Regions from separate parts of the Homo sapiens genome. Here region 2 is linked to region 1. Evidence: fine-mapped expression QTL. Tissue or cell type: whole blood. Region 1 holds a variant in brackets; the other region holds the start of a gene. Each region is shown on its reference strand, or each on the opposite one. Region 1 overlaps AP2B1 (adaptor related protein complex 2 subunit beta 1). Region 2 holds the start of GUK1 (guanylate kinase 1).

Evidence for each region. PIP is the estimated chance that this variant, and not a neighbour inherited with it, causes the effect.
Region 2: GUK1 starts here. The variant in region 1 is fine-mapped to the expression of GUK1 in whole blood (TOPMed, PIP above 0.99).

Annotation. Positions count from the first base shown.
Region 1 is chr17:35,618,032-35,620,840 of GRCh38, reverse strand. The region is part of intron 5 of AP2B1 (adaptor related protein complex 2 subunit beta 1); the gene reads right to left. Among named protein-coding and RNA genes, the nearest start is that of AP2B1, 32 kb to the right of the region's middle. The variant T/C (reference allele first, on the strand shown) is at 1,753.
Region 2 is chr1:228,139,057-228,141,865 of GRCh38, reverse strand. GUK1 (guanylate kinase 1) reads right to left here and starts at 1,587. Exons shown (of 8, transcript NM_001159390.2): 1 at 1,503-1,587. The coding sequence starts at 1,563. RefSeq lists a silencer at 1,001-1,560 and enhancers at 1,571-1,800, 1,911-1,960.

The DNA.
Region 1 (2,809 bases):
GAAAAAAATTGTATTTTTTTAAAGAGGCAGGGTCTCACTCTGTTGCCCAGGCTGGAATGCAGTCGCACTGATCACAGCTCACTGTAATCTCAAACTCCTGGACTCAAGTGATCCTTCCACCTCAGCCTCCTGAGTAGCCAGGACTACAGGCTTGTACCACCACACCCAGTCAAGTTTCTTAATTAAATTTTTAGAGATGGGGCTGGCTATATTGCCCAGGCTGGTCTTGAACTCCTGGTCTCAAATAATCCTCCCAGTTTGGCCTCCCAAAGTGCTGGGATTACAGATGTGAGTCACCATACCCAGCCAAAAAGGGGGGTTTCTAGAGAAAGTTTCGCTTTAAAAATGAATTTTTAAATAGGATTTCCTTGGGGTTTGTTTGGTTGGTTGGTTTTAAGAGACAGGGTCTTGCCCGTCACCCAGGCTACAGTGTAGTGGCATAATCATATAGTTCACTGTAATCTTGAACTAGCAGATGGGACCACAGTGCATGCCACCATGCCTGGCTAATTTTTTTTTTTGGTAGAGACAGGGGTCTCACTATGTTGTCCAGGCTGGTCTCAAATTCCTGGCCTCATGCAGTCCTCCCATCTTGGCCTCCTAAGGTGCTGAGATTACAGGTGTGAGCCACCATAAGGTACCTGGCCTACAAATAGGGTTTCTTAAGAGAGCTTCCTCAGCACAAGTTGATTTATAAAAAGTTGGCATCCAGGTGACAAAGGGACACATTTGCAGCATTAAAAAAATAAATCCTTGGCCGAGCACGGTGGTTCACGCCTGTAATCCCAGCACTTTGGGAGGCTGAAACAGGTGGATCACTTGAGGCCAGAAGCTTGGGATCAGCCTGGCCAACATGGTGAAACCCTGTCTCTAATTAAAATACCAAAAATTAGCCAGGCATGGTGGTGCATACCTGTAATCCCAGCTACTCGGGAGGCTGAGGCACGAGAATCACTTGAACATGCGAGGCAGAGGTTGCGGTAAGCCAAGATCACACCATTGCACTCTAGCCTGGACAACAGAATGAGACTCTGTCTCCAAAAAGATAAAAGTAAAATAAAAAACTAAAAAAAATCCTTTATTCATCTTGCCTCCCAATTATGGTAAATTCTATTCTTGGGGAGACTGAAACTAAACATTCCCCACCCCTCACATCCCCTCAAAGAGCTAACCCAATTATGTATACTTTACAGAGATAGATATTAAACACAAACATATATATAAAAGCAGCACATGTAGATGTGTAAAATCATACTCAATCCTAGACAAATCTTTCTCCGCCTTAATTACAGACTTCTCTTCAATATGATATTTCCTTATGGACCTGTGGAATCTGCTGGTTGTTTTTGTTTTTTTTTTAAATAGAAACAGGGTCTCACTATGTTGCCCAGGCTTCTCTCAAACTCCTGGCCTCAGGCAATCTTCCTGCCTTGGCCTCCCAAAGTGCTAATATTACAGGTGTGAACCACCATACCCAGCCTGAATTTTTAATGATAAGCAATTTGTATTTTTACTTACATTATACTAATAGAATGAGTTTTACAGAGATAAAAGACTGGAATAGCTAAAATGTATTGAATATTTACTTTGTGCTATTAATCCTCATAACAACTCTGAAGTAGCTGCTACTAAAAGCCACCTATTACAGATAACAAAACTGACTTAGAGAAGTTCAGTGACTTGCTTAGGGTCAACACAGCCAGAAAGGGATTCCTGCTTGAATCTGAACTCAAGGTCTGCATCTGATTCCAG[T/C]GTCTGAGTACTAATACTTGGTCTCCAGCATTTATAGAGCTTCCAAGACTTGTGAACTTCAACCAAGGGAAGGGAAAGAAGATTCAGAGTAGGGGAGGATAATATAATCCAAACATTATTTCCAGCAAAGGTGACATGTAGATTTATATACAAGGAGAAAAATGTATTCTACTTTATACATTTCAGAGATAATCATATCCTACAGTACTTAGGGAGGGAAAGATTTACTACCTAGCTATAAAATATGATTTATGATCTATACCTGTCTTATATGCAGCAGTTGAGGATAATAAATTTGACCTCATTTTGTTAAAAAAGGAGTGAGCTGGTACAGTAGGTATGGTTAGAATAAAAATGACCCTGTAAAAAAAAGGACTCTCAAAGGAAATCTAGATATAAACTGGGAGTGGAATATCACACACATAAGCTCACTTATGAGGAATCTCTCACCCATTTCCCTGTCCCTTAAAATGATTTTCACCTTGCACTCTAATTTCACTCATTTTCGTGGCCTTGGAACCTTAGAAACTTACCACTTTCCAGTTCAGTGACTTCTTCCTGTTAAGTAAATTACTATTTACAGGACTTTGATTTCCAGCAATGACCTTCAAGGTCACACACTATGAACAGATTTATGCTTCAGTTTTTCTGCTCAATTTACAATTATTTTGGCTGGTATCCCTGAAGACTTGAATAAAGTGAAAGAAGTAGAGTAACTGACCAAAACTATTATGAGGAAATACACAGGTGGTTTACATATTTTTGTTCTCTTCTAAATTAGCAGTGTTAGAATATTGCTATCTCCTTTACAGAATGACCTCAAATGACATGTGAGGCATAGGACAACATATTTGTTCTGAGAGTTTCAGTCATTATTATCTCCTTAAGGAGACAATGACTGCAGTACCAGTCAAACAAGTAAAACTTAGGGCTTATACTTTAATCCAAAACACTGTCTAGAATGCCAACTGTTAATATGCCTGCTACATTACAATCTAGAATATTCCATTTTTTCCCCATCTTCTTCCTTAGAATGAGAGGTAAAACTACCTAGTGA
Region 2 (2,809 bases), not on the chromosome of region 1:
CTGGCAAGAAGCCACACAACCCACAACTGTAAGGACCTGCCAGGCACGTGGTCTCCACAGGAGCTCCGAGATGGAAGGTCTCCTGGGAGCCGCCGGCGCAGATCCATGTTCCGGAATGGTCTCTGCCAGAACGCTCCCTGGACTGGGCTCCCATGCTGCCCCAGCAGCCGCTTTCCTGGAAAGGCACTCCCTGCTGTGGCGGCATAATCTCCTCCTTCTGGCTTCCAGCCATCCTAAGGACTGAACAGAGTCACCACCTTGCCCCCGGCCCACTGTTCGAGGAGATGCTAACAGAGGGCTTGACCTTCTGAGAACCGAGAGAATTCAGCCCCCGCCTGGCCTCTCGTAAGACACAAACCACCAGACGTGGGCCTGGGCTCTGGGCTGGGCCAGGTGGATGAAGGGGAGGCTGGTGGTCCAGGCGGCTGCTCTTGGCTGCAGGGTTTCTGGGCACACATCCGGGTAGCACGCATCCTGGCCTTCAGCAACCTCGTTTTAAATGGGACCACACCAGGAGCAGCCAGGGCGCTTTCATTTTCACTTTCTTTCCCCGGGGGGGACAGGAACATTCCTTTACCTCCTGAGGAAATCGGGCTCTTCCAGAGCCACAGAGGAGTGAAGGCCCCAGCCCTTCACGATGCTGCGCGGCTATGTTTGGGTCTGTCCATCAGGGAGAAAGAAAAACCGGCCGAGTCTTGCACAGGGTCCTCGACAGCAACCCCAGGTAAAGAGCAGAGCAAGCCTGAGACAGGAAGGGGCCATGAGCCCAAAGACAGCAGAGCAGGACCCAGCCCGGGGCCTCAGGACCGACCTCTTTCATGCAAAGACGAAACCGAGGCCCACCACACGCAGGGTCAAAATCAACTTTGAGGCACCTGCTTCCCACACCAGTCCTTACTGGGGCATACTTCTAAGGCGACGCTCAAGAATGGCAGCAGGGCAGCTTCAAGAACCCCAACCCGGACTCTGGCTTTGGAGAATCCGAACCCCAAATGCCACACCCATGCGTCGGGAAGGCCTGCTGTTTCCCCAAGTCCCCGTCTCTGCGCCGTGCCGCGGAGTAGGCAGAATCCTGGGAGCCCCGGAATAGCCGGCTCCATCCGCCCAGGACCCCAAGGCTTGCAGGGTGAGGTGGGAACCGGAGCGCACACCGCGCCGGGCCAGCGGTAGGGACTCCCAGCTGCTCTCTTTGGCGGCGCGCCCAGGTGTCGGGAAGACACCGAGCGCTCCTATACGCCCGGGGAGCAGCTCGACACTGCGATAACTGCCGGCCTGCCCAGCTCCTGAGGAGCGCCCCGCCCTCCGGGACCCGGGCTCCGCTGCGTTGCCAGCCCGTCCGCCCTCCAGAGCTCCCCCGTTCTCAGGGCCCACAGTTGAATGCGGCACAGGGCGTCTCGGCTAGGAGGAGATCCGGAGGCGGCGTGGACTGGGCGACCGCAAAGCGCAGGGACCGCTGCCGCCTCGACCCGAGTCACCCTCGCGATCGCGCTTGTCGTACTCACCGTCCGGTGGGGCCCGGCCCAGGGCGGCCGCAGCCAGCCCGGCCAGCGGGCGCCGCAGCATCCGGGGCCACCTCTTCCGCCCACTGAACCTACGTGACAGCGCCGCACCGGCCCACCTCCGCCCGCGCGCGAGACTGACGTCATGAGGCGACTGCCCCGCCCATGTCTCACTCGTTCTTCCCCGCCCCTTAGGGAAGTACTTACCTCAGTGCCTCGCTAGCCCCGCCTCCACCTGCGCTGGCCTGTCGCGACCGCAGGGGCGTTCAGCACAGCGCCCTCCCAGCCCGTCTTCTCCCGCTGCGTCACAGCGCCACGCCGGCCCGCCTCCACACAGCGCGAACTAACATCACGACCCGCCGGCCCCGCCCACGGCGTACTTGTCCCGCTTGTCACTCAGAGAAGTACCTCAGTGCAGCGCGGGCCCGGCTTTCATCTGCTACGTCACAGCGCTGCCTCAGCCCGCCTCCTCCCGCTTATGTCACAGCGCCGTTTCCGTCCTCCATCTACACTGCAGGGACCTAACTAACGAACGACTCCGCTAGCCCGTTCCAAACCGGCCACTCTCCAAAAACCATTAATTGGGGAATGTGGCCGGGCGCGTGGTTCACGTCTGTGATCCCAGCTCTTTGGGAGTCCGAGCCGGGAGGACCGCTTGAGGCCAGGAATTGGAGACCAGCCTGGGGATCATAGGGAAACCCCTTCTGTACCAAAAAATTTAAAAACTTTTTTGTGCCTGTAGTCCTTGCTACTCGGGAGGCTGACGTGGGACGGTCGCTTGAGCCTGGGCAGTCGAGGCTGCAGTGAGCGGTGTTCGTGTCACTGCACTCCAGTCTGTGTGACAGAGCGAGACCCTATTTCTTTCTTTTTTTATTTTTTGAGACGGAGTTTCGCTCTTGTCACCCAGGCTGGAGTTCAGTGACGCCATCTCTGCTCACTGCAACCTGGGCCTCCTAGGTTCAAGCGATTCTCCTGCCTCAGCCTCCCGAGTAGCTGGGATTACAGGCGCCCGCCACCACGCCCAGCTAATTTTTGTATTTTTAGTAGAGACAGGGTTTCACCATGTTGGCCAGGCTGGTCTTGAACTCCTAACCTCAGGTAATCCACCAACCTTGGCCTCCCAAAGTGCTGGGATTACAGGCGTGAGCCACTGCACCTGGCCACGGGACTCTATTTCTAAAAATTATTTTAAATTTTTAAAAAAGATTTATTGAAGGCTGGGTGCAGTGGCTCACACCTGTAATGCCAGCACTTTGGGAGTCCGAGGCAGGCAGATCACCTGAGGCCAGGAGTTTGGGACTAGCCTGGCC